7 linked regions of the Homo sapiens genome follow. The protein of the gene in region 1 purifies or fractionates together with the protein of each later gene. This does not show direct contact. Each region holds a gene or a part of one and is shown in the gene's direction. Other genes may lie near its edges.

The links.
Region 2: the proteins of GAN (region 1) and INA purify together in Homo sapiens (affinity purification with mass spectrometry; 3 studies listed by BioGRID and IntAct, with this or other methods). This does not show direct contact.
Region 3: the proteins of GAN (region 1) and CTU1 purify together in Homo sapiens (affinity purification with mass spectrometry; 2 studies listed by BioGRID and IntAct, with this or other methods). This does not show direct contact.
Region 4: the proteins of GAN (region 1) and CCDC73 purify together in Homo sapiens (affinity purification with mass spectrometry, with the first as the bait; one study listed by BioGRID). This does not show direct contact.
Region 5: the proteins of GAN (region 1) and VCPIP1 purify together in Homo sapiens (co-immunoprecipitation; 3 studies listed by BioGRID and IntAct, with this or other methods). This does not show direct contact.
Region 6: the proteins of GAN (region 1) and EIF3B purify together in Homo sapiens (affinity purification with mass spectrometry, with the first as the bait; one study listed by BioGRID). This does not show direct contact.
Region 7: the proteins of GAN (region 1) and ZMYM3 purify together in Homo sapiens (affinity purification with mass spectrometry; 2 studies listed by BioGRID and IntAct, with this or other methods). This does not show direct contact.

The regions. Positions count from the first base shown.
Region 1 is NC_000016.10:81,317,547-81,321,719, forward strand, and holds part of GAN (gigaxonin), read left to right. Parts: intron 1-4,173. UniProt on the Homo sapiens protein: Probable cytoskeletal component that directly or indirectly plays an important role in neurofilament architecture.
Region 2 is NC_000010.11:103,279,583-103,283,755, forward strand, and holds part of INA (alpha-internexin), read left to right. Parts: intron 1-4,173. UniProt on the Homo sapiens protein: Class-IV neuronal intermediate filament that is able to self-assemble. It is involved in the morphogenesis of neurons.
Region 3 is NC_000019.10:51,097,895-51,102,067, reverse strand, and holds part of CTU1 (cytoplasmic tRNA 2-thiolation protein 1), read left to right. Parts: intron 1-2,928; coding exon 2,929-3,467; 3' UTR 3,468-4,173.
Region 4 is NC_000011.10:32,654,823-32,658,995, reverse strand, and holds part of CCDC73 (coiled-coil domain-containing protein 73), read left to right. Parts: intron 1-4,023; coding exon 4,024-4,152; intron 4,153-4,173.
Region 5 is NC_000008.11:66,656,851-66,661,023, reverse strand, and holds part of VCPIP1 (deubiquitinating protein VCPIP1), read left to right. Parts: intron 1-4,173. UniProt on the Homo sapiens protein: Deubiquitinating enzyme involved in DNA repair and reassembly of the Golgi apparatus and the endoplasmic reticulum following mitosis. Necessary for VCP-mediated reassembly of Golgi stacks after mitosis.
Region 6 is NC_000007.14:2,364,569-2,368,741, forward strand, and holds part of EIF3B (eukaryotic translation initiation factor 3 subunit B), read left to right. Parts: intron 1-1,748; coding exon 1,749-1,880; intron 1,881-1,956; coding exon 1,957-2,023; intron 2,024-2,365; coding exon of another isoform or gene 2,366-2,389; exon of another isoform or gene 2,390-2,404; intron 2,405-2,430; coding exon 2,431-2,477; intron 2,478-4,173.
Region 7 is NC_000023.11:71,241,617-71,244,797, reverse strand, and holds part of ZMYM3 (zinc finger MYM-type protein 3), read left to right. Parts: coding exon 1-8; intron 9-327; coding exon 328-496; intron 497-817; coding exon 818-969; intron 970-1,713; coding exon 1,714-1,828; intron 1,829-2,373; coding exon 2,374-2,628; intron 2,629-3,181. UniProt on the Homo sapiens protein: Plays a role in the regulation of cell morphology and cytoskeletal organization.

The DNA.
Region 1 (4,173 bases):
AATTAGGAAATATCTGTAGTCCGGTTCTTTCACTTTCTAAATAAGAAAATAGGGGCTCAGTGGACATTAGTGACTTGTGTTATGAGGTTATTAGTACTTAATGGTTGAACTAGGATTAGACTCCAAATTAATTACGGCTAACCGCCTTCCTACTCTTGCCCTACCACGTTAGAGCATTACTTGTATTTCACCGTTCTCTTTGTGTAAACTTTACTGTTAGCTGGCTTACAATATCTTAGAATTAAAATGTTTATCAAGCACTTTTACATACTGTGTCATTTTGGTTTCCATTTTCAATCATCTTTAAAGAGAAGGCAGATTTTTTTTTTTTATGTTTTGTGGATAAACATGAATCAGTCAATATGTGTTTCATCAGTGACAGATGAATTGCTTTAAGTTTATTTGGCTATTGAAGTGATAGAATGTCTTGGGATGTTTTTAAAAATTATCAATTCCGAAGCTGTTTCAAAGTAATTTGACGAATCTGTATCACTAACTAGAAAGAAATTTGTTAATTTTGTATTTTTACTGGTAATTTTAATACCAATAATATTGGGCTTTTATAATGTACTTGTTTGTTTGAATAGCACTTTAGAGAATTATATTGAAACAAAATATATTTATGTATTCTAGAACTTGATGTTTCTTATCTTTCCCTTTTGAAACTTAAGCATTTAGATCTGTGATATCATTAATCTGTGAATTGAATGTTCAAAAGTTTGGTAATCTCTGAAGTTTTATAAAATTCTGATTTTGTTTAATGTCTGTGTTTGGCCTAGTGTTGGTAACTGTCATAAGTGGTTGTGTGATTGTGTGGTTTAGAAGCAGTGGTATGGCCTGGCATGGTAGCTCACACCTGTAATCCTAGCACTGTGAGAGGTGGAGGCGGGAGGATCGTTTGAGGTCAGGAGTTCGAGACTAGCCTGGGCAACATAGTGAGACCCAGTCTGTACAATAATAAATCATGTATATAAAAAATAGGAGCAGTATTGTCTTTTGCTTACTATGTGCCCAACAAAGGAAGCCAGTCCAACTCTGTCACACTGGGAATTAAAGTAACTTGTTTGGCATACTTTCTACTTAATATAGAAAAGTCTTTTGACTTATTGGTTTAATCTTTTATTCTGCTTTATCTTTGGTCTAGCCCTTGTTTTTCCTGCTGACACCCTTAGCAATCCTACCATATTAGAAAGATTTTAAATATAAAAGGAAAAGGCCAGAAAACTCAGCTTTGGCAACACACCCTCATGGTCAGCTCAGAGAGGACTGGCATCCCCGGGTTATGTAGAGAGAGCACGTGTCATGCAGCCCTAGGGTGCAGCTGCTCCAGGAAGGAGGCAGGACCTCCTGCGGTCCCTCAGCTCAGTAAATGGCATGCATGCCCCTTTCCCAGCATGCTCCTTTCCCAAAGCTTTTCCTCCTTTTGGTTCCTGGGTGAGATTTTCTCTTTGGTTTGTTGGGGAAACTAAACCTAAAAGTAGTTGACAGGCTGGGCGCAGTGGCTCATGGCTGTAATTACAGCACTTCGGGAGGCTGAGGCGGGAGGATCCCTTGACCCCGGGAGTTCCAGGATGCAGTGAGCTATGACTGCCACTGCACTGCAGCCTGCCTGGGTGACAGAGACCCTGTCTCTTAAATTAAAAAAAAAATAGATATAGATTATATATATATATATATATCTAACAACCTTTCTAAGAATGGCAAAACCGAATTCATAGTCATAAGCACCCACAGAGCCTTTTCTTTCTCATCAACTCTGAGACCTTCTGGGGAAAGCTCCCTGCGGCTTGCAGGAAATTTATTTTTCTTTTGAATATTACAGTTTGGTCTGCTTCATGTCTGAGGCTCTTCCGATTCTGGCACAGTCCCATTGATCTGATGCAAAGTTCAGACCCATTTCTCTCCTGAGCTGTGGTTCTTGGTGAGTAATGTATGTGAAAAGGATTTGAAAATGAACGGCTATGTGCTTCTGCAGTGACATTATGGTGGCTCTGTACAGGTTTCCAGTCCTGTGATCACTTGTAAAATTTAGGGTTTTCTGGAGACCTATTGCAACAAAAGTTTGTTTAGCTCTCAGTCCTGGAGAGAAAATGAAAAAAAAGATTCCTAAGATTTTTAGATCCTTTGATGAGTCAGCTAAGAATGTAAGTGGCTTCCCCCCGACCCCCCCTTATTTTTTGAGAGAAGGCAGGTCTAGTGAGGATAGAATGAGACATAGGGCCTCAAATCCAGCCTAGGTCATCATGAGCGACTTTTCTGGGCTCTAGCTTCCTTATCTGTGAAGTGAGGTGGTTGGGCTACATGGACAGCAAATCCCCTTTAAGTCTAAGTTATGTAGCTCTATGCTATTTTTGTTTTGCCTCATGTGTATGTGTTGTGAGGAGGAGGACCTGTTTCTGTTTTTATAGCTTTATTGTGTCATTTAAAGTTTTGTTTTATGTTAATATTAAAGCATTTCCATTCCCCTGTCATACAGGACTTTATTGGGTATTCTGTTGTATAAATCCAGGCCTGTAGAGTTGTATCACAACAATCATTTATTTTATGCTGTTAATCTGGGTATGTTCCAAGGCCTAATTATTGATGAGCCTGTTTTGCCATTTAAATATAAAGTTTGACTCACAGATGATACTGATGAAACTACTTAAGGAGACTAATAGGATCTCTGTAGGAGGTCCAAGTTTCATAGTAACATAGACATTATTTTTTGAATATCTGAAACATACACTGTAGTTTAATGTCACATGGGCACTAAAGTCCGTGAGTACTATGTGGTGTGTGCAGAGCCTGCTTTTCATCCCCAGTTTACTTTTGTTGATTAATTTATGTGAATAACTGCATAGCCTCTTATTAGATTCTTTGCTTCCCTGTTAATGCTGAGAATACACTCCCGAGGCAGCAGTATCCACTAAGTGTTCCCTGGTAATGAGAGTCTGGCTGTGAAGCAAAGTGATTTCACAGTAATGTTCAGTTAATAATGTTTTGCTTTCTTTACAATATTTTCATAATCTTTTCTTCACTTGTGTTTCGAGTTTATAGTCTTCATAGCAGCTCCCGAATGATTGTCATAAGGATCTTGAATAGTGATTGTAGCCTGTGAAGTTTCTTAGTGCTCAGGGGTTCAGTTAGAAGCTCCAGTTTCTGAGTATCTTTTGAAATCCTGAGCACACTTAAAATAAAATTGACATTACCTGTTCCTTGTACTCTTATGGTGATGGAAAATAAGCTGGGCTTGAGTCTCTTTTAAGGGATCTAGACTTTGTTTTTATCTACTTACTATAAGGCGTTCCTAACAACTGCTCAGAAGATGAAATTTGTCCAGAAGGTCTTGATAGTTTAATGGTTCTCAGTGATTTTCCTTTTCTTTTTTTTTTCCTTTTTTCTTTTTTGTAATCACAACCTTGTTTGATTAAACCCTATTCTTACTGAGTTTTTCAAAAGCGATAATAACTATGTTCAGTTTCAGAAGATCAAAGACATATTTTATCCAGGCTTCTAAGGAAACTAAGCACTTGTAAATTTCAATTTAACACAGATTACTCATGTCAGTTTAAAGATATTTGTTTATTTTATATAACACAGTGGTTGCCACTATTAGTAGCAGTAGATGTTCTAATTCTGGAGAGGTTTTTGGAAGGTTTCAAATGATGAAACAAATCAACAAAATTCTTGTTAGACTAGTGTCTGTAGCATAGAGGGAAGTGTGGGGTGTTCAGATTTATCGTAGAACTTTCCCGAGGATTGTTATTATGAGTAATAGTAATGTGATAGGAGTAAAACCTAGCTCTGGTTAATTTTCTCTAGTGGATAAGTCCTCACTCTTTTACCTATACTGTTTTTACTTCTGCCTCTTCTTATAGTTTGCATTTTCTCCTGTGATGTCTCCTTCAATGTTCTTAAATTAGTTTTTGTTATATAATTTAGGATTGAAGTAAAATGCTCTTCCACATAGAAACTCTGGTTCCTTAGGATTTATATTTGGATGATATAGAGTAAGCATCCAGTTTTCAAAACCGCCTTATCCATTGTTTAAAGTGTTAATGAGTTCTTATGATATCAAAGTGGGACTTAAAATCTATTTATAATTTGTAAGGAAAACATAATTAGGACAAATAAGGGTTCATTTGGTCTGTGAGTGCCATGCAATAAGTTCTTCACAGGGTTGCATCATCC
Region 2 (4,173 bases), on another chromosome or scaffold:
AACTTGCAATAATTCTAGCTAGGATTAAAGTTTACATTTGGTGAGATTAATAGGGCTTGGAACATTGGTAAAATAGAACCAAGAAAGGAATGAAATCTCAAAAGTAACATTTTAATCAGAAGCTAAAGAATTCTTATTGATGTGCAGGTATTTGCTGTTTGTTACAATAACTTCCTTTGATAAAGGAAAAAAGCCTGCTTGGACTGTTTAGGTTAGTTTGGTATTGCATTATCATTCAAATAAGTACTTCCATTTCTGCCTCAAAATCCATAACTTGAACTTTTCATTATGTACCCTAACCCCTGGATGGCCTGAATTAATCACATTTGGCTAATTGAGACTTCATTTTTTTCTTCTAGAAGCCTCCAAGTACGAGCTAGGTGGTCTTCTGGAGGGCTAGCCCAGTATTTCTACAAAAAAAGGATAACTTACTCAGAGCTGCCAGCTGAATTGGGCTTCTCCATTTTCTCTGCTTGTTATAGCCCATACATTCTAAGAAGTAGTGACAGTTTTGCCTGGCTTGTTTGCTGTAAAAGGCTTTCATCATTAGACAATGGTAGCGTCATCCAGACATGGTCTACAGGAAACAAACAAAAAACAACAACAGAGAAACTGCAGCATCTGCAGCTCTGCGGTGCTGCCCCCATCAGCTTGAGCCTTTAGAGCCACAGAGGACCTGCTGATGGGAGTGGAAGAGGAGGTCAGACAACAGAGAGCTGGTTCCCTACTCCTTGGGACCTAAGGCTAAGGTGGAGCTCAAGTCTTACCTGCAGATCCTAACGGCCTGATGCCACAAGGGTGTCTCTGACTGTTCTAACAATCTTAGCAGTGCTGACCAAGGTGAAAAGCCTCCCTTTCTACAGTGAGATTTAGCCATTGTTTTCTTGCCCTCTCATCTCATCCCCACCTTTCACTGCAGTAATGGGAGGCTGTTCTCCTTCTTCTGCTACAGAGATTAGTGGTAGGGCCATTTTTCTTTTCAAACTTGGCACCCTCTATGAAACATAGGAAGGCCCCATTAAAGTCCCATCTTCTCTGCCCCAGATAGCTGATAGCCTATTTAAGGAGAGAAAGCTTCTTACACTTTTGAAAGGGTAAAAAATGATTCACGGTGACACAGTAAGTACACAATAGTGGATGAGAGAGTCTGAATCAGGCAAGAGAAGAGATTAGGAAGAGCTAAGGCTATTGTCTTCAAAAGCCAAATGCAACTCCCCTCTGCATAAAAAGCTGATGGGGTTTCCATTTCTGACATAGGGCAATGCTGGTGCCTACATAGCCACTTCGGCACCATTAGAGTCCTAGTTCTGTTAAAGATGTCCAAAGACATTCTTGGAGGGTACTCAGGGTCTCAGACCTCTACTGTGGTCAGTCTTGGAAAGTTGAAGCTTTCCTTGAAAGACCTTGCTGAATGATCAAGATCACCGCAGGTTAATGCTCTCCAGGGAGACAAGCCAAGTCTTCTCTTTTTTCTCCATTATGAGATTGGAGTACAGCCTAATTAAATAGCAGGAAGGGGCTGGCCCCTTGGAGACTGGAGGTGACAGTGGCTGCATATAAATCCATAGCTTGATAGATCCATTTCTAAAATTAGCTACATTTGATCTTTTTTAAGCTCTTCCACCTGGTTTTTGTTTCATTTTGTTTTGTTTGCCCCTCCCTATCTTACTGTATTACTGTCACCTGGGCTACCATGATAGCATCTTTATAGAAAAAAATTTAAACTAGTGGATCCTAAACCCAGTGACACTCTAAGGTCAATTGGGGGCTTAAAAAAATTATCAGGCCCACTCCCAAAGATATGGATTCAGCAGTTCACAGGTAGGGCCCGGGAATATGCATTTTTCAATAAAAGTGCTGCATCCTGTTGGTCCTCAGACTGACTTTGGAGTACATTGATCTAAACCACTTCTTCCAGTAAAGTAGTTTACGGAGATACGTATAATACAGGATTTTCGAGTGTGGTGGAGGAAAGAAAAAGATGGGGACAAAGGAAAGGTAGGAGTGAGAATAAAGCACGCATGGTGAACCACAAATAAAAATCCTCCGTCCCCACTCAAGTTGATTATGCAGAGCAGTAATTCTAAATAGCCTCTTTCAATCAGACTGTGGGGCACTCACTACTGCCTCCCTGACCCAGGGCCCCCAAACGTGCTGAAATCCACAGCTCTGTCGTTCTTCTTCACCACTGCAGATGTTAGTGTGGCCATTCATTTCTCTTACTCCACCCGGCATCCTTCCAGCCACGGGCTGCGATGCTCAGACGAGCTAAGACGATGCTCAGCGTTTGTCTTAGCTCCTCCAGGAGAGACCCCAGCTGGAGCTGGGCGTGCCGCTCTCCGGTTCCCTCAGGCTAAGCCGGCAGCAGCTGCGTGGTTGGGGGAGGGGACAGACTGCAGCGCTCTGCTCAGATCTCGAGCTGGAGGCCATCTTTGGCAGGGCTTCTGAAGGGCAATGCAAGACACAGCCTGATGTGGGGAGGAGAGCACAAACAAAGAGACCAGACATTGAAGAGCAATCAATGGTCAGAACACAGCACACTTCCTTCTGAAAGGAGCAAAGTTGTGCTTTTCTCTACAGTGATCTGTAAAATAGATATATGAAATCTGCAACATAGAAGTTCAAGGAAATCTCATCTGTCTAGAACTCAGCTCCCCAACCACCTCTTATTCAGAAAACACAGCTGTGAAACAAAAATAATGTTTTAAGCAAGGACCTAATTAACCTGCTGATGAGACATATCATCTATCTCTAAGCCAAACATTAGGAACTTGGCACCTCTACTGCCCCCAGCCTATTCATTCTTAACACGATTTCAAAATGCTTTTTTATTTGGTTTCAAGACTGCAGCAAGATGGAGAATGGGGACCACTGGAGTCAGGCATTGTTAAGAATGAGCAGCAGCAGATCCGTTCATCTTTCAGAACAAAGAAAATCAATGAGCATCAACACTAATCCAAACACCGCACTTTGGGGCCATTTAGGGTAGAATTAAACAGCCTGATATACCTCGAATGACCTAAAAGATGTCACCGAATTATTTTTAAAATTGATTATTATCATGACCCTTAATTGCTGTGGAAGGTGGCATTATGTTTAGTGTCCTGATTGTGAGTGGTATAAGCCACTTTAGAAAGGCTTTTTATTCAAAATTGTTATTAAAAAAAAAAATCTGGTGCTTTAAGGTATATGCCTCCAACTATCCAATATTAAAGTGTTGTTATATGTTACTTTTCGTAGTTATCTAAGGGGTTGGTAATAGTGAGGGCTTGTGATTAATTTGTCTATATCATCAAAAGGATAGAGGGCCATGTGGTATGATATTATCAAGAATAAAAATCACTAACATTTATTGAGTTCTTCCTGTGTGCCATGCTGTTCTGATGCCTACTAATTTAACAGATAATGGACTCATCATATATTAATGTATATGTGAGATATATTAAATTGAAATCCTAATTTGAGGATCTCAGAACACCTTAGAAAAAGAGTAAACATAACTTTCCGTATGCAGAAGTAGAAGATTGGAAGGAACTAAAATGTAGAAAACTGGCTGAGGTCCAATGGATGTTAGTGGCAGAGCAAAAACTGCAACCCAAGTTCCTGATGAAATCCTCCTCTTATCTTCATATAGCATTCCTCCTCCTTCTTTGCATAATCATATTTTCTTCTTTCTCCTTTTTCCCTCACTCTAGACTCTTTTCCCTCTTACCACAGTAATATTGATTCTCTTGTCAGTAGCTAGAGGGTCTATGTCAGTGATTCTATGTCAGTAGCAGAATTGATTATAACCTCAAATAGGAACTATCAGGTAAAATTTCTTGGTAAAAATCTCTTTAAGGCCTCATGATCTCTTAACACACTTTGAAATATATGCATCACGGTCCAGTATAATACGTATTTTTCCTACTGACTGTCATTCCTTGTTCTGTACCCATCAGTCAATTGAGACTCCTCTTTGCAGTATTCCTGTCAATATTTATAGAACAGGTAGGTGGTATGAATTTTAATTCTGCAAATTCTCTTGATTTGGAAGTTTGTACCCCCTGATGTCTCAGCCCTACCTTTCACCATTGCTTTATCATTCTCACACAAGGGGAGTTTCAAGGGCCTGTCAACACTTACTTTCTTGAGGTTTCTGATATGTTTATCTGCATCACTGTTTCTTTTTTT
Region 3 (4,173 bases), on another chromosome or scaffold:
CACGCCACTGCACTCCAGCCTGGGTGACAGAGCAAGATTCCAGCTGGGGGAGAAAAAAAAAGAATGAGAGGCTGCCTCGGATTTTAAAGTTAATTTGATAGAATCACTTATTAATTGTACTTCCAAAAGTAATGAAGCCTTCCAGAAAAATCCCTGACTTGCAAGGTGATTTCTACCCTTTGTTTATACACTCCATTTTCAAAGGCGTAGTATAATAATTGTTGTAATAATTATTACAAAACTGGGAGCTCTTAAGTGGGTTTGTAATGACAAGGTGTGGAGCAAATCCAGTCTCCCCTAATTAATGTGGTTTACAACTTTAAGTCAATAAACATTCAACGAGATGTCGTTTGCAGTAGCAAACATGCCCAATCTCAAGGTCACAGGGCTTGGCAGGTCTTTGGGAGGTAACCATTACTACAAACACAATTAGAGCCAAGTTCTTGGAGGTTTTTTACCATATAGACCAGGGCCTCTCAACTTCAGCCCTATTGATATTTGGGGCCAGATAGTTTGTTTTTAGGGAGCTGTCCTCTGTGTTATAGGATTTTAGCAGTATCCCTGGCCTCTACCCACTAGATGCTATTTAATAGTAGTGCCCCACCCCCAACCTGACACACAGAAATGTCTCCAGCCATTGCCAAATGTCTCTGGGGGAGGGAAGGAGGGCAGACTCATCCCAGATTGAGAACCACTGATATAGACTCAAGTATAACTTGACAAGACACAGAACAAGTTTAGCTTCAATTTCATGGTGACCAGTGTGTAAATATTTCTCACTGTTACTTCTAAACAAAGATAACACAAAAACACTGCAGTGATTACAGGGGTGGTGACACATGCTAGTAATCCCAGCCGCTTTGGGAGGCCGAGGCAGGTGGATCACTTGAGCTCAGAGGAGTTCAAGACCAGCCTGGCCAACATGGAGAAACTGCGTCTGTATAGAAATACAAAAATTAGCTGGGCATGGTGGCACACACCTGTGGTCCCAGCTACTCTGGAGGCTGAGGCAGGGGGATCACTTAAGCCCTGGAGACAGAGGTTGCAGTGAGCTGAGATCGTGCCACTGTCCTCCAGCCTGGGCACTAAAGTGAGACCCTGTCTCAAACACACACACACACACACACACACACGCACAATAAAACAAAATGAAAAAAAAAAACCATAAAAAAACTACAGTCTGGGTTGTCAGAGGCTCTGTGTCAAGAACCAGTTGTTTTCTCTGGCTGCTGTAACAAATTACTTCAAATTTCACAGCTTTAAACAACACAGATTTATTATCTTGTAGTTCTGTAGATAGAAGTCTGGGAAGTCTCACCGGGCTAAAATCAAAGTGTCAAGAGTGCTGCCTTTCTCCTGGAGGCTCTGGGGCAAGGGGGTCCATTTCCTTGCCTTTTCCAGCTTCCGGAGGCTGCCCACATTCCTGGCTGATGGTCCCTTCCTCCATTTTCTTTTCTTTTTTTTCTTTTGAGACAGAGTCTTGCTGTGGAGCCCAGGCTGGAGTGCAGTGGAGTGATCTCGGCTCACTGCAACCTCTCCCTCCCAGGTTCAAGAGATTCTCATGCCTCAGCTGGGGTTACAGGTGCCTGCCACCATGACCTGCTAATTTTTGTATTTTTAGTAGAGATGGGGGTTTTGCCATGTTGGCCAGGCTGGTCTCAAACTCGTGGCCTCAGGTGATTCTCCCACCTTAGCCTCCCAAAGTGCTGGGATTACAGGCATGAGCCACTGTGCCCGGCTCTTCCTCCATTTTCAAAGCCAAGGATGGCAGTTTGAGTCCTACACCGTTTGCATCACTCTAACCTTGCCTCTGCCCTCACACCCCCCATATGCAGTAGGCGGGTGGCAAATGAGGTATCCCCAAGTTCCCCAGGGAGCTTGTGTGTGTTCCCCTCTCAATTCCTGCTGTGTCCACCTCCAGCCACCACCTAGCTGCACCACAGTGCCCAGGGGGCTCCATGGCCCCATCTCCCTCTCCCGGTCTCTGGGTCCTGGCTGTCCTATGGTGCCAGAGGGGCTCCATGGCTCAGGCTTCCCCTCCCCATCTCTCTCTGGGTCCTGGCTGCCCACTATGTTCAAAGGTCTCCATGGCCCTATCTCTCCCTTTTCTGCCTCCCTCCTCCCCTCTAAGGGTCTTTGTGATTACCTTGAGCGCACCTGGATAACGCACCATTCTGTCCCTATTGTAAAGTCAGCTGATTAGCAGCCCCAATTCAACTTGCAACCTTAATTCCCCTTTGTCCTACAACCAAACATATTAACAGGTTCCCAGAATTAGGCCATGGATTCCCTAGGCGGTGGGGGAGACAGCAGCCTGCCTACCCCTCCAGCTCTCCTGAGAATCTCGGTTAAATGCCTTAAATGCCTTCTGATTTTTGTGTACAGTTTGAATTACGGTTTTAACTGAGGCTGATAAGGTTATTAGCAGCATAATGCACTTTTACTCCCTATATGAAAGGGCAACTAGCATAAGGTCCGCTATGCAGTAGGCGGGTGGTACATGAAGGCACGCCCAAGTTGCGCCAGGGGAGCTTATGTTTCTCTTTGATTTTTTGTTGTGTCCACCTGCAGCCTGCACCTGGCTGCTTCACGGTTCCCGGAGGGTCTCCATGGCTCGCTCTTGCCCTCCCCGTCTCTCTCTGCGTCCTGGTTGCCCACAGTGCCCTAGGGGTCTCCATGGCTCTCTCTCCCCCTCCCTGTCTCTGGATCCTGGCTGTCACACCATGTTTGGGGGTCTGTCTCCATGGCTTGCTCTCCCCGTCGCCGTCTCTCTCTGGGTCCTGGCGGCCCCACTGTGCCCTGGGTCTCCGTGGGTCTCTCCTCCCAGTCTCTCTCTGGGTCCTGGTGGACCCTTGGTTCCCCGGGGGGCTCCCTGGCCAGCAGCGCCCTCCGCGCCCCACCTCACCCGCTCCCTTCTCTCCCCACCAGGTCACAACGCCGACGACATGGCGGAGACCGTGCTCATGAACTTCCTACGGGGCGACGCGGGGCGGCTGGCCCGGGGCGGGGGCCTGGGCTCTCCCGGCGAGGGGGGCGCCCTGCCGCGCTGCCGCCCGCTGCAGTTCGCCTCGCAGAAGGAGGTGGTGCTGTACGCGCACTTCCGCCGCCTCGACTACTTCTCCGAGGAGTGCGTCTACGCGCCCGAGGCCTTCCGCGGCCACGCCCGGGACCTGCTCAAGCGCCTGGAGGCGGCGCGGCCGTCCGCGGTGCTGGACCTCGTGCACTCGGCCGAGCGCCTGGCGCTGGCCCCGGCCGCGCGGCCCCCGCGCCCCGGCGCCTGCTCCCGCTGTGGGGCGCTGGCCAGCCGCGCGCTCTGCCAGGCCTGCGCGCTCCTGGACGGCCTGAACCGCGGCCGGCCCCGCCTGGCCATCGGCAAGGGCCGCCGGGGTCTGGACGAGGAGGCGACGCCGGGGACGCCCGGGGATCCGGCCCGGCCCCCCGCCTCCAAGGCCGTCCCCACCTTCTAGCGACTTCGGGCCTCCCGCCGGGATCTGATGCCGCGGGGTGGGGGCTGCCTGTAAATGACACTGTGAATAAACCCGTTACCTTACCTGGCCTTCCATGTGGGGTTGGGAAGGAGACGGGGGCCCATTCACCTGAAACCCTGAAGAAGCTGGGACCCCAGACTTCGAGGTCTCAGGGAAGAAGGGTCTCGAACTGGGCTTCAGGCTCTGAGGGAGGAGGGGGCTGGGGGACCATCCTAGGTCTGAGAGAGGAGAGGGCCAGGACTAAGCCTAGAAGAAGTGGGACTGGGGACCCCAGGCATCTGTGGCTGAGGAAGGAGGGCCTGGGGTCGTGGACTCCTGGGTCTCAGGGAGGAGGGGGCTGAACACCGTGTGATTCTTGAGCGAGTGGGGATTGGTTGGGGACCTCCTGCCCAGGGCCTCTGCTGGTTCTGGGTGCGCTCAGCATGGTCCTGACCCTCCTTGAGCATCAGATTCCTGATGTTTCCTGTTTGCCCGCAGTGGGGTAAGCGGAGCGTGACTTGATGGACACACGCCATTCACAGCCGCCGTCACGATGCCTCCCTTCCAGCGCTTCGTGTGTAGCACGCACTGCACCCTCATTTCGTCTCCACCACGGTCTCACTGGCTGTAGCCTGAAGTGGTAAATGGCCCTAAGACACCCAGTCGGAAGGGGTCACACCGAGGGCTCCCTCCAAAGCTCTCGAAT
Region 4 (4,173 bases), on another chromosome or scaffold:
CTCTTATTTTGTGTAATTTTAAATATACTTTTTGTCTCTTCCATCAGTGAAGCACACTTTCTATTTCCTTTCCATTTTTGTGTTTCTTCCTTTCGCATTTCATGGTCCCCTTTTCCTTTCTTCCAGTTTCACTTAGTCACTCTAGAATCATCTTTGACTCATTTTTGACTCATCTTTTTCCTTTATTCTCTTTGTTCAGTCTATTATATTTTTTTTTAGAATGTCTCATATTTTTTACTTTCCATTTTTCAATACTATAGACACTCATCATCTCATGCCTGGATTAATATAATAGCCTCTTAGCCAGTGTTCTTTTCTCAAGTTTTTATTCATTCTTTTTGCCAGACTAAGTTTACTAAGATACTGATTTAACTTCTATGTGCCTGACACACAGGAGGTACTTGGTATATGTAGAAGAAATGATAAATAATTCTCCTTTGCCTACCAAATCAAGTCCCAGGCTTCTTTAATTGGCTTTCCAGAGCTTTCATGATCTGGTCCATTCTACATGTTCAATATTGTTTGTTATTGCTTCTTAACAAGCATCTTCCATTCTATTTTAGCCAAAATTCTTTGTTGCCATTAGCATAATTCTTAGTTCTTTCTGCCTTTTGGTTTTGTTTTCCTCTACATCCCTTCCCATACTTGAAATGCTTTCTCTCAATGTACTTGTACTAAACAGGGTTGGACCAGGAAAGAGGTGGCACGGTGGAATGGTAATTGAGAAAAGATTAATGAACTACGTAAATGAAAGCTATTTACGTAGTTGTAGACAGAGGTAAGGGAAAACAACAAGGGATGGTGAAGCACCCCACAGATAAAAGTAGTGGGAGAATGATTAGCACACCTGTACCTGAAGAGATAAGGGAATGAAGCAGATGCTGGAATCTGGAAAGAGCTGTAGCTATAGCTGCAGAAGAAAGCCTAAGGCAGAAGCTGTGGGGTTTTTTTTTCTTTTTCTTTTTTTTTTTTAAAGAGACTAGGGTAGGGGGTGGGTTTTTATTTTTAAGAGATGGGGGCGGTGGGGGGTCACTGTGGCGCAATTATCGGTCACTGCAGCTTTGAACTCCTAGGCTCAAGTGATCCTCCAGCTTCAGCTTCCTGAGTAGCTAGGACCAGAGGCATACACCATCATGCCTGGCTTATCTTTTTATTTATTTAGAGACAGGGTCTTGCTTTGTTGCCCAGAATAGTTTTGAACTCTTGGCTTCAAGCAATCCTCCTGCCTTAGCCTCCCAAATCACTAGGATTAGCTGTGATCTTTGGTAAAGATATAGAGGTATTACCAATTTGTGGTTAGTAGGGAGGGAGCTGGTAAAATACCTCATTCTCTTTCTCTTTATAGCCTACTGATCTACTAGTACCTCCCACAGATTTAACCCAATCAGGAGCCAGAAGGCAGAGAGTTTGCTATACCCACAGATATCAGCCACATAGGGCACAGAGCAGTGTGGAGAAAGGGTGGGAAGTGAATCAGGAGTGATAAATGGAGGATATCCACTATACTACTCATTCTTCAAGGCCCAGCTCAAGGTCTACCCCCTTCATTCAAACTTTGGTTCATTCCTTCGATATATACTAATTGTTCTCTTTATGCCAGACATCAATTTGTCTGCCTGCTTTTCTAAGAATAGAGCCCTATCTCTTGACTCACGTGGTTACTTTAGCAGTCATTTTATGCAGTGTACATATCCAAAGGTGATATTTGAACTAAGACCAATGAGTCCTTTCTCCTGGATTTTGAATTTGGAGTTAGGATATACTTGGGTGAGTTTTTCCCTGGGTGGCTAAAGCTGTAACATGTAGAACTTTGAAGGTATTAGTAGCCCTGTTTTCTGCTGCTCCTCTTTCAGCTTCCTTTTGGGTTTCCTCCTATCTCAGTTGACTTTATTTCTCAGCCTTATATACTGGCTTCTTCTCTAATCTATGAATTTTTCTTAGGATTGAGTCATTTTCCATTTTCTATCCTCTAATAACTCTCTATGTGATAGTACCTGTTTTTACAGCTTAAATACGATTTTAAAACTACAAAAAATGTTTTTATTTTACGAAAAATAGAAAATACTAATCACATAATGAAGAAAATAAAAATTTCCTATAATCTTGCCACTCTAATAAATCAACTTACTTCTACAAGAGTCAAAAGTTTGTTGTTTATCCAGTTCTTAAGACCTTTAAAAAAATTAAGTAGTCAGGATTCTTAATTGCACACTGATTTAGTCAGCAAAGGAATTTATTGGAAGGGCATTGGTTATCTCGGACTTGAAAAATGATTACAAACAAGGGAGGCTATGCAGTATCCAAGACTATAGCATAAAACCAGCTTCCACTTTTGAATACTGTATATCACAGCTTATACCATCATTGCTGACCATAGTGGATGCTGCTGATGCTGCTGCTGCGGTATCACTCACCCATAGAAGCTTGAAGTTACTACACTTCCCTGACTATCTACCAACAGATGGATTTGCAGTAGTCCTTGTTTTTTTGTGATAACTAATCCAATATCCAAGACAGGTGCATGAGATTAGCAGAGCCTAGCCTCATGCTTATAAAGCTGGTACCTGGCATCTTTGCTTCTCTGGTAGGCAGCCGGCTCTTATAATGTAGAAAAACTGGCCGGGCGCGGTGGCTCACGCCTGTAATCCCAGCACTTTGGGAGGCCGAGGCGGGCGGATCAGAAGGTCAGGAGATCGAGACCATCCTGGCTAACATGGTGAAACCCCGTCTCTACTAAAAATACAAAAAAAATTAGCCGGGCGTGGTGGTGGGCGCCTGTAGTCCCAGCTGCTCGGGAGGCTGAGGCAGAAGAATGGCACAAACCCAGGAGGCGGAGCTTGCAGTGAGCCGAGATCGTGCCACTGCACTCCAGTCTGGGCGACAGAGCAAGACGCCGTCTCAAAAAAAAAAAGAAAAGAAAAGAAAAGAAAAACTGCCCACTGCCTACCTGAGAAGCAAAGATGCCAGGTACTAACTTTATAAGGGAGTTCAGATACTGTGTAGCCGAGACCGAAAATCAGATTCTTGAGTATTTAATATAGTCAATATACACAGAAGAACAGCACAATCAATTGCACACTAATTCAAAAGTTGGTATTTCAAGATTTTAATGTGTTTAATTGGTATCTGCTAAACTCAATGAACATGTGACTTCATAAATGAAGACTGCTTTTACATCCTTCAGTTCCACCCTCCACAACACTGCCAGAGTTATTTTTCTAAAATGCAAATTTTGTTATGTCATTCTTCTACTCAGAATCCTTCAGTGGTTAATTCCCCATTTTGTTTTATAGTATAACATTCAAACTCTGTAGCGTAACGTACAAGTCCTTCTCAATACTTGAATCCTGCCAAATTTCTAGACACAACTACCAATATTCTACTCTGTCCCCTGAAATAACACATTAGCTCCAGTCATATCTTATTAGTTCTGTTTCCCTGAAAAATATCGTTCTCTTTCATGTTTCTGTGGCTTTGTGCATGTAGAACCTTTTGCCTGGAATGCCTACCCCTTTGTTGTCTTCTTTGCAAATTGATCTTTAAAGATTCAGTTCAAATAGCACCTTCACATGTAATACCGTTTTGATACAGTTTATGTTTTTTATTCATTTTTCTAATATAGCACTCATTACATTGTATTGTAATTATTTCTTACATAATTTTTCCTATTAGAGGCTAATAAATTTGGGAATTGAGATTTCCTTGTTATCTTTTTATCTCAGAAGGTATTTGTTTAATAAATAATGGAAACACTGTACTTCTGGTTAGTTAGTTGATTTTGTTAGTACACTCCTTTTAAGATTAAAAGTCATGCAGTCAATCTCTTTATGATTGATTAACTTTGCCTGATCCACAACCGCAGATTATGTTCCCACCTTGGCTAATCTTGCAAGGGAACTTGCAAGGGAATTATAACAAATTATAATTATAGGCTTAAGGATGAACTTTGAAACTGTCAGGAAAGTACCTTGTTTTAGTGAAATATGTGTACTGAATTTTCTGTTTGATATGTTTCTTATTAAGGAACTAAAAAAAGCAGCCTCAGACTTGATAAAGTCCAAAGTCACATGTCAATATAAGATGGGAGAAGAAAACATCAATCTAACAATTAAAGAACAAAAATTTCAAGAACTTCAAGAAAGACTCAACATGGTATTTTATTAAATGTATTTG
Region 5 (4,173 bases), on another chromosome or scaffold:
GTCGCCAGGCTGGAGTGCAGTGGTGCGATCTCGGCTCACTGCAACCTCTGCCTCCTGGGTTCAAGCAATTGTCGTGCCTCAGCCTCCCAAGTAGCTGGGATTACAAGCACGTGCCACCACACCCAGCTAATTTTTGTATTTTAATAGAGAGAGAGTTTCTCCATGTTGGTCAGGCTGGTCTTGAACTCCCGACCTCAGGGGATCCGCCCTCCTCGGCCTCCCAAAGTGCTGGGATTACAGGCATGAGCCACTGCGCCTGGCCGAAGATATTCTTAATTTAAAAAAAAAGATGTTCCTACAAAATTCAGTTTGGGGATAAATACTAACCATATGTAAAGAGTACTGGGGAACTGTTGATGTTTAGATTGGAGAGGACTAGAAAATGACAGAGCTTGTTTAGAAGATTACAGATTTCAAAGTGCAGAAATTACTTTGTGAATTACCAAATGTGAGCTAAGCTGTGTTATGTTAGTTTAGAATATAGCTCATCAGACTTTATGCTGTTCAAATAGCTGGTTCTTTCTCGTTTAAGTTTAGGCTTAAATACCACCACCCTGTAAGGGTTTGAGAAAACTTTGCTGACCATTCTAAGTAGGTTCCCTCTATCAGTGTACCCTGTTGATGTCCCTCACGGCATCTATCACAATTTTTAATAATCTTATTTGTTGGTTTAATTATTTGTTTGCCTCCCCCACTATATTATAAAGTCCATCAAGACAGAGACTGAACCCTATTTTCTTCACTAATCAATACCTTATTTCCTAGTTCAGGGCCTGGCACATAGTAGGTACCAAGTAAATGCTTGTTGGATTAATGAATGCAATTATTTCAGCAAAATCAGTGTATACTATGAACTTGTATGTATGTTGAGTGTACAAAGATAAATGAAAGTCAGTGCTTGCCCTCCATTAACTTACCTGCAGGCTTTCAGCTGAAGGAGTTCCATACTTTTTAGCTTTCATCAGCAGATCTCCAGCTTTATTTTCTAAATACATAAAAATTATAAAATCCCCAAATAGGACCAACACAGCATTTTAGAACTTCTCATTTGATTAAGAATCAAATATATACATGGGGATTGTATATTTTCTTTCTTTTTTTTTTCTGGAGACAGATTGTCGCCCAGCCTGGAGTGCAGTGGTGTGATCCCAGCTCACTGCAACCTCTGCTTCCTGGGTCCAAGTGATTCTCAACCTCTCAAGTAGCTGGGACTACAGGTGCGCACCACCACGCCCAGCTAATTTTTTGTATTTTTAGTAGAGATGGGGTTTCGCCACGTTGCCCATGCTGGTCTCGAACTCCTGAGCTCAGACAATCCACCGCCTCGGCTTCCCAAAGTGCTAGGATTACAGGCGTGAGCCACTGCACCCGGCCTGTATGTTTTCACTAAATGGGCTGACTGCATGATAGCCAGGGACATGAGCTTTTTCTTTCATTTTTAAGTAGGATATTCATTGATTAGATCGTCTATTACTTATATTAATAAAACAATAAGTAGGTGTATTAGTCTTTGGCTTAGTACAAGTCATTCATGGAACCTAGTAACTTTGAATCTTAGGAACTATAAAATGGAATAACAATATTTTACCCATAATATTTTACATTTTTAATCTCTTTTATCCAGACCACAAAGTAATTGAACTTAATTTTTTGCAGACAGTCATCTTCATTATTTATATAATACTTAAAAGACTAACTCTGGCTTTGCAAAATATGTCATTCAGATTTCTTGTAGACCTGGTGCGGTTGCAGTGAGCCAAGATTGCGCCACTGCACTCCAGTCTGGGCAACAGAGCAACACTCTTTCCAAAAAAAAAAAAAAAATTTCTTGTAGATCAGTTATTTGTAGGTTTTCTTTCATGGTAGACAGGATAGGTGGTACATTATCCACCATAAATATTTGGGCTAATTTATTTTTTCTTAGTGTTATATTTCATTAAGTTTCTAGTTTTGTTTGTTTTTTTGTTTTCCTAGAGGTAAGGACAGATTTAGGTGAAGAACAGAATTTGTCAGTTTGGAGTTACTTAAATGAAATTAGGCTACATGACACTTCCTTGCTTTACTACAAAGTGTACCAACCTTTCAGGAGTTGAGAAACTTGTTTCATTTTGATATACTTTCTCTGTTCCTGAAAGAATTGTGTGGCTTTTTAACGTATATATATATTTAAAATACACAATATTTTGTAATTTCATAATACCTCTTGATGTCGTAAATGCCTTAGAATTTTCCAGAATCGGCTGGGTGCGGTGGCTCACGCATTTAATCCAGCATTTTGGGAGGCTGAGGCGGGTGGATCATGAGGTCAGGAGTTTGAGACCAGGCTGGCCAAGATGGTGAAACCCCGTCTCTACTAAAAATACAAAAATTAGCCGGGCATGATGGCGCTCGCCTGTAATCCCAGCTACTCAGGAGGTTGAGGCAGGAGAATCACTTGAACCCAGGAGGCGGAGGTTGTAGTGAGCCAAGATCATGCCATTGCACTCCAGCCTGGTGACAGAGTGAGACTCTGTCTCAAAAAAAGAAAAAAAGAATTTTCCAGAATCACGCTTGGGACTGAGACACTTATTTTTTAGGTGACAACTGAATATTATTATTGCACCTTTTTTTTTTTCAAATGTTGGGTAAAGGGCAGTTTCAAATCTAGATAGTACTTATGCATATTCTTCTTTTTTTTTTTTTTTTTCCCCAAGATGGAGCCTTGCTCTGTCGCTCAGGCTGGAGTGCAGTGGTGCAATCTCGGCTCACTGCAACCTCTGCCTCCCAGTTTCAAGCGATTCTCCTGCCTCAGCCTCCCGAGTAGCTGGAATTACAGGCGCCTGCCACAACACCTGGCTAATTTTTGTATTTTTAGTAGAGACGGGGTTTCACCATGTTGGCTGGGCTGGTCTCGAACTCCTGACCTCGTGATCCGCCCACCTGGGCCTCCCAAAGTGCTGGGATTACAGGCGTGAGCCACCGTGTCTGGCTGCATATTATTATTCTTTCTATGCCTTCTGATAGCCCTTCTGTTGATTTATATGTAGCATACTTGTAATGGGAGAGCAGTTATAAAGTTGAATAAAAAATAATGCATAGGTGTATCTTAAGATAAATGTATATATTGTAAATGGTGATTTTATATAATTATACTTTGAAAATTAAGTCAAATATTGATGTTATTCCTTTCTAGATAGAAAAGGAAATCTAGATAATAATAGATTCTGTTCCAACTACTTTGATCACTTTTATTTTAAATATTTTTTCAATTACAATATAATGTTTAAAATTCAAATAATTCAAGTACCTATAAAATATGGTAGTTCTTAACATTTGTACTCCCCAGATAAAATCATTATTAATAAATTGGGATGTGTCCTTTCAGACTCTGTACACATTTAAACACTGTTGAGTTTGTGTGCATGTCTGTGTATGATAAAAATATTCATTAATGCTGCTGGTGACACTAAAGTTGTGTGACTATATACCGTTAAGGGGACTGAATTTCAGGCAAGAAACAGATATGCCTTTTTTATAAACCATTTTGACTATCAATAGGGTAGATAAACTTTTAAACGTGAGGATTACGTCAGGAAGGGTAGAGAGATGCCAACAATTCTTTCAGCAAATGAATACCTTTACCTTTGGAATTCTGTCTAGTTGAAACAGTCCTGTGTTCCTACTTTATATTTGGAACCATTTATTCAAATTATTAAAAAATTTTGAATTGTTTCTTTAAATTTTAAATTTAAATAAACAAGTACTTCATTTTATGGTCATAAATAGTTGAGTTCAGAGTTCGTTTTGGGTGTTTCTTTTGGGGCTTTAAAAATACATTTTGGCTGGGCATGGTGGCTTACACTTGTAATCCCAGTACTTTGGGAGGCCGAGATGGACAAATTGTCTGAGATCAGGAGTTTGAGACTAGCCTGGCCAACATGGAGAAACCCTATCTCTACTAGAAATACAAAATTAGCCGGGAGTGGTGGCGCACACCTGTAATCCCAGCTACTCGGGAGGCTGAGGCACGAGAATTGCTTGAACCCGGGAAGTGGAGGTTTCAGTGAACAGAGATTGCGCCACTGCACTTCAGGCTGGGGGACAGAGCAAGATTCTGTCTCAAAAATTAAATAGGCTGGGTGCAGTGGCTCAAGCCTGTAATCCCAGGCCTACTTTGGTAGGCCGAGGGGGCGG
Region 6 (4,173 bases), on another chromosome or scaffold:
ACCCCATGCCAGCCTTCTACAGGTGATCTTTCATTTTGTAGCATTTCAAACTTAGTAGAAAAATACGGGAGTATGCAGAACGCTAATAAGCTTTTTACTGAGATCTTCTCACATTTGGTTGCATTTACGTCATCATCTCCTATACAGATATTTTTTCCTGAGCCATTTGGGAGTGAGTTGAAATAACATGTCCCTTTAGCCCTGAATGTGTATTCCTAGAAATAGGATTTTGTTAGTGTGACCATAGTGTGGGTACTGACTTCAGGGATTTACCATTCATTTAATACTTCAATGTATTGCCATATTCTGATTTTGTTACTTGACCTAATAATGTTCTGTATAATACTTACTTTCCTTCAGTTCAGGATCTAGTCTAAGGTCACGTATTTTACAGATAATAAATTGTCCTTCCTCTATCACCCAGGCTTGGCGCCACCCAGTGGCACCATTGCAGGCTCATTGCAACCCCAGCCTCCCAGGTCAAGCGGTTCTCCCACCTCAGCCTTCCTGAGTAGCGGGGACCGCAGGCACACGCCATGACATATGGCTAATTTTATTTTTTGTAGAGATGGGGGTCTCACTTTGTTGTACAAGGTAGTCTTGAACCCCTGGGCTCAAGTGATCTCCTGCCTTGACCTCCCAGAGTGCTGGGATTACAGGCGTGAGCCACCGCACCTGGCCGAGCCGTGATTTTTGATCTAGCTAATCCGGCTGTCGGAGGCCTGCTAGGGAAAGGGGCGGTTGTGGGAGGCAGTGTGAGGCGAGCTGGGGCCACTCTAGGGAAAGGGACAGTTGTGGAAGGCAGTGTGAGGCGAACGGGGGCCACTCTAGGGAAAGGGGCAGTTGTGGAAGGCAGTGCGAGGCGAGCTGGGGCCGCTCTGTTTTCGCCCTCATGGGTTGTGTCTGCCTTCCCCTCTGGTGTTGTAAGGGACCGTCTGTTACACACTTTGTGTGAACTGAGTAAGCAGGTGCAGTAGCTCCAGACAAGCCAGCAGTCAGGTAAATCATGGCTGGGAGGAGCCCCCAGGCTCTGAAGTTTCTATCAGACCTGTGCTGGCTTTCGAACTGGATGGGACTTGTTTTTTTGTTTGTTTGTTTGTTTGTTTGTTTTGTTTTTTTTTTTTTTGAAACTGAGTTTCATGCGTCGCCCAGACTGGAATGTAGTGGCACGATACCAGTTCACTGCAACCTCCACCTCCCGGGTTCAAGCTATTCTCCTGCCTCAGCCTCCTGAGTAGCTGGGATTACAAGTGCCTGCCACCACGCCCGGCTAATTTTTGTATTTTTAGTAGAGACAGGGTCTCACCATGTCGGCCATGGTTGGCCAAGCTTGTCTTAAACTCCGGACCTTGGGTGATCCACCCACCTCGGCCTCCCAAAGTGCTGGGATTACAGGTGTGAGCCACTGCGCCCAGCCGTATTTTTTTAACTTGTTAGTCTTTATTAAACATGGGTAAAGATAGAGTTCCACACTGCGCCACCCTCTGGATCACTTAGCAGCCTTGTGTGGGATCGGTGAGATCTTCTGTGCTGATCTTGGAGAAACCGGAGCGCCTGCAGCGTATTGACACCAGAATGAACAAGCGCCGCTGCTTCCCGCTTCCGCTTGGGTCTCTTGGGGCCGGGCAGTGTGGGGTTTGGGGAGAGAGCTGGTTCCGCGAGTTCTGACGGCGTGTTCTGGCCGCACAGACAGACTGTGATCCTCTCGTGAGAGGAGGATAGTGTACAGTGTTGCCCTTCTCTTCTAGGTACCTGGTGACCTTTAGCCCCCTGATGGACACGCAGGATGACCCTCAGGCCATAATCATCTGGGACATCCTTACGGGGCACAAGAAGAGGGGTTTTCACTGTGAGAGCTCAGCCCATTGGCCTATTTTTAAGTAAGTGGACCATTGTAACGAGCTCTGTAGCCTTTGTCTTTTCATGGGAATACCCTGGCACTTTTGTTTTTCTTAGGTGGAGCCATGATGGCAAATTCTTTGCCAGAATGACCCTGGATACGCTTAGCATCTATGAAACTCCTGTAAGTGGCCTCAGTGATGGCAAACGCCCCGTCCGGTCCTTGCTTGTAACCGGGGTGTGGTGCCTTTCCTTATTTGTGCTAGAAGAGGAGGAGGAGGTTTCACAGATGCATAGGAAAGGCCTGTCTCCTGTGCCTTTTTAACTGCCCCTGCTCTGGGCAGAGCTCTTCAGTCACTCCTGCCCACCTGGCGCAGCCGTGGGAAGTCCTGGATGGGAGTTAATGCAGTGGGCTTCAGAACTGCAGTTCTGGGTGGCGGGTGGGTGGATGGGTTCACTGTCACGCTCTGTGTGCACTGCCCCCTAGGCAAACTCACATCAGACTCTTGTTTCCTTTTGTAAAAAGTTAGGTGTGTTTCTGAGACACTGACATGATTTGACTCAACTGCAGCCTTCCTTTTTTTTGGGCAGTCTATGGGTCTTTTGGACAAGAAGAGTTTGAAGATCTCTGGGATAAAGTGAGTATTCTTATCAGTTTGGTGTCTTAGTGTGTTCAGGCTGCTTAACACAATACCAAAAAAAAAAAAAAAAACACAATACCATAGGCTGGGTGGCTTATGACAGCTGAGATTTCTTTCTCCCAGTTCTGGAGCTTGGGAGCTTGAGGTCAGGGTGCCTGCAGACTGTCTGGTGACGGCCCACCTCCCTCCTAGTGGACAGCCCCTCGGTCCAGCCTTCCCTGGAGGAAGGCCTCCGTGGCCTGTTCTGTAAAGTCTCTCATCTCATTCCCAAGGGCTTCCCCCTCAGGACCTCCCACCCCCCAAAAGGCCCCACCCCATGCCGTCACCCCAGGGGGTTAGAATTTCACCCTGTGAATCTGGGGGACACAGACGTGGTCCATTGCAGTTGGTTTCCTTTATTTGCTGTCTCTCCTTTAGCACTCAGCTTTTTGTTGTTGTTGTTAGAGACAGAGTCTCGCTCCGTCAGGCTGGAGTGCAGTGATACGATCTTGGCTCGCTGCAACCTCCACCTCCTGGGTTCAAGTGATTCTTCTGCCTCAACCTCCCGAGTAGCTGGGACTACAGGCATGTGCCACCAAGCCCGGCTAATTTTTGTATTTTTAGTAGGGATGGGGTTTCACCATGTTGGCTGGGCTGGTCTCAAACTCCTGACCTTGTGATCTGCCCGCCTCAGCCTCCCAAAGTGCTGAGATTACAGGCGTGAGCCACCATGCCCAGCCTGTCACTCAGTTCTTAACCAGTTGGAGAGAAAACGGTGAGTTTGTTCTTTTTTTAAAATTTTTTTTTTTTTTTTTTTTTTTTTTTTTTTTTTGAGGCAGAGTCTTACTCTGTCTTGCAGGCTGGTGTAGAGTGGCGAGATCTTGGCTCACTGCAATTTCCACCTCCTGGGTTCAAGTGATTCTCCTTGCCTTAGACTCCCAAGTAGCTGGGACTGCAGGTGCCTGCCACCATGCCTAGCTAATTTTTGTATTTTTAGTAGAGATGGGGTTTCACTGTGTTGGCCATGCTGGTCTCAGAACTCCTGACCTCAAGTGATCTGCCCACCTCAGCCTCCCAAAGTGCTGGGATTACTGGCGTGAGCCACCACACCCAGCCATTTTTAAATCTTTTTTGAGACAGAGTCTTACTCTGTTGCCCAGGCTGGAGTACAGTGGCGTGATCTCGGCTGACTGCAGCCTTCACCTCCCAGGTTCAAACGATTCTGGTGCTTCAGTCTCCTGAGTAGCTGGAATTACAGGCGCGCAACCACTACGCCCAGCTAATTTTTTGTATATTTTAGAAGAGTCGGGGTTTCACCATGTTGGCCAGGCTGGTCTCGAACTCCTGACCTCAAGTGATCCGCCTGCCCGCCTCAGCCTCTCAAAGTGCAGGGATTACAGGTGTGAGCCACCGCGCCCGGCCTAAGGTGAGTTTGTTCTGGACACAAGGATGGAGGCTTGAGTCAGTGGGCAGCAAGGCTGCTCAGCATTGGGCCCGCCACCCTTGAGGCACCACTTCAGTGACCCCTTCCCGTGCCTAGAAATGAATTTTCAAGGCCAGAGCCTTGAGTCGGCTTCCTTCCATCTACCTCGTCTTTGATCTAGAAACTGAGGAGGGTGGGGTTTCCAGCCTTTTAAGGAAAAGAGGGGACTCTGCTTAGGTGAAAGGTTTTCCTGGTACTCTTCCATCCGAGGCAGGGTTTGGGGAGCCTTCG
Region 7 (3,181 bases), on another chromosome or scaffold:
TGAGGAAGGTAGGGCTGGGGCTACTGTATGTACAAAAGAAGAATGGAGGCCCAAAGGGGAGATGATGCGAGAGCCAAGCCAGCAACCATAGTTTGACCTTCCCTAACCTCCTTTCTCCAACACTAGAAGTACTGAGATAAAGCCAAACTTTGCTCTCCCCCCATCTCACAAGGTCATCAAAGCTGTTCCTGGGGCTCTGTGCTATGGAAGCTTGCTGTGTGCTTACATCAGCCCCTGCCCCGGCCAGCAGTAAATATGGTGCTGACTAGCTTTCACCTTGCCTCTGGCCTTACCTCTGCCATGCCCCTGCTTTCTCTTCCCCTCCAGGGTCAAAAGCGGCTGGTGCTTTCCGAAAGCTGCTCCCGGGACTCCATGAGCAGTCAGCCTAGTTGTACCGGGCTCAACTATTCATATGGTGTCAATGCTTGGAAGTGCTGGGTGCAGTCAAAATATGCCAATGGAGAAACCAGCAAGGGTGATGAGCTGCGCTTTGGCCGTAAGTACTTGGGGATGGGGGGTGTGGGGAGGCAGGGACAGGGAGGAGGAGGGGAAAGGGGAGAAGGGGCTGGGCCTGTGATTCAGCTGAAGATGTCTAGAAGTGATAAGGGTGTGATCCCTTAAGGATGCCCTGTGAAGATGGGGAGGAGTTGTAGATTAAAGGGAAATGCTGTCTAGGTTCCAGGTTAGGGGCTCTTTCTGTAATTGTTCAGGAGCTAGGCATGACTAAGGGATGGAGGGGTTAATGGTGATGGAGCTAAGTGAAATTCTCCATGTAGAGTTTTTCTTAATCCTGTCCCTGCACAACATATCACTGCAGCCAAACCCATGCGTATCAAAGAGGATATTCTCGCCTGCTCAGCTGCTGAGCTCAACTACGGTCTGGCCCAGTTTGTGAGAGAAATCACTCGGCCCAATGGTGAACGATATGAACCTGACAGTATCTACTATTTGTGTCTTGGCATCCAGCAGGTACCTCTTGTGCACCACCTCACTTCCTGTCACTCTTAACACAGCAGGCAGGGTCTAAACAGAAATGATTCTGGGTTAGGCACGGTGGCTCACGCCTGTAATCCCAACACTTTGGGAGGCTGAGGCAGGAGGATCGCTTCAAGCCAGGAGTTTGAGACCAGCCTGGGCAACAAAGTGATACCCATCTACCCAAAAAATATTTTTTTAATGAAAAAAAAAAGCAGTTATTCTGTTGCACTCCCTGTTCCTCATCTTGTCCCCTACCTGAAGCAGGCAGCTTGCCTTTAATCTCCTACTCCAAATAGAACATGAGATATCAATACTCTTCTAAAATCAAAACTGCATTCCAGGACCGTTGGCCAAGGAGCAGTCTTCATTGCTATCCAGGTCCCCTTTGTAATCTTTAAGCCCATTCTAGGAGGGGAGGGATGGGTGGAGCTGGGATCCTTGAGTGCTGGGGTAATGTTTAGTTCCCCCTGGGAGAAGTCAACCATGTATTACCTGAGAAGGAGGTGTGGGCTTCTAAAGAACATCTCCTCCAAGCCTCCTCCTCTTCGAGCAAAGCCTGAGTAGCGCAGAGCTGTGGGTATACCTGGGGGAAAGCACTCGAGGCCACCTAATCAAGCAACTGTTTCCCATCGTCTCCTAATGATCAAGGACACCATACCTGGGGGCTTCAGCATCATTATCTTTCTTCTAGGACCTACAGTCTAGCCTTAGGTGTGTCTGTTTTTCTTTCCCCAGTACTTGCTGGAAAATAACCGGATGGTGAACATTTTCACGGACCTTTACTACCTGACTTTTGTTCAAGAACTCAACAAGTCTCTGAGTACCTGGCAGCCCACACTCCTCCCCAACAGTAAGGAACAGGGACGTAGCAACCCCTACCCGCTTTCTCCATTCTTCCAATCCACCATCCCGAGAGTCCTGTGCTGTTTGGTCTGCCACTCTTCACAAAGGGCCCGAGGGCAGGAGCGTGTAGCTGGATGCCTCAGGGTTTAGAGTTAAAGGAGCACAGGAGCGCCTGTTCTTGAACGTGAGATGGGGATCAAGACTTAGGTCTGAAGAGCTATCTCTAGGACCAGAAAAAGATGGCCTGGGTTTGGGTGGTAAGTAAAGAAAGAAAGCAAGAAATCGTGGGACTCCTCAAGGTTTACATTTACTTGTCTACAACTTGAGGGTGGTGAGAGGCGTTCCAAATGCAGGTGTGGAAAGTATATATTTTTTAAAGCCCAGTCCCACTGTGTAGTGTAGCAAGTGTAGCGAAGTGACAGTGTTTTATATACAAAGGTTACTCACCAAATGAGAATTGTGTGGGAAATGAGCAGGGCACATGGGATGGGAAGTGGTTGGGTTTGGGTAGCCACTCCCTCCTGACTGGCCTCTCCCCCTTGACCATTGTAGATACGGTGTTCTCTCGAGTGGAGGAGGAGCACCTCTGGGAGTGTAAGCAACTGGGGGTCTACTCGCCCTTTGTCCTCCTCAACACCCTCATGTTCTTCAACACTAAGTTTTTTGGGCTGCAGACAGCTGAGGAACACATGCAACTCTCCTTCACCAATGTGGTGCGGCAGTCCCGCAAGTGTACCACCCCTCGGGGCACCACCAAGGTGGTGAGCATCCGCTACTATGCCCCAGTCCGCCAGAGGAAAGGGCGAGGTACGAGGCTGCCCCCTCCCCTGTGCTTTTGCCCCTTCTCTGCCTTCCCCTTCCATGCCCTGCCATAACCCACCATACCTGCCAGGTCGGCCCTCTCCTTGGCGCCTAGCTTCCCTCTCCTGTTCCTGTGTGCAGAAAGGGTAGAAACAGCCAGTCCTCCTACCTGATAGGCAGTAGCTGTTGCATAAATAAGAGGTCACCCTCTGGCCTGTTTCCCCTCTTTCCTCATTTAAGACAGTTTACTTGCTTGCCTGCTTTTTCTGGGTGGTGGACAGGTAGGAAACCATTGGGTGTGTTTGGCTGTCGGGGAGGGTAGAATGACAGGCTTTCTGTGATTCTTTGCTATCGGGTCTAACAACAACTGCACCTTGGTTTCCATTTTTTCTGTCCCTGGACTTCTGTCCTGTCTGAGTGAAGTTTCCAAGGTCCTTTCTCTGGACCCATGCTTCTACCTGGACTAATGCACAAGGGGTTGGGGTCATTGCTGTTTCTCTATCCCAGAAGGCAAGCCCACCCTTGCAGTAGGGTCTGTTTTATCAGGTCTTTTGAATAA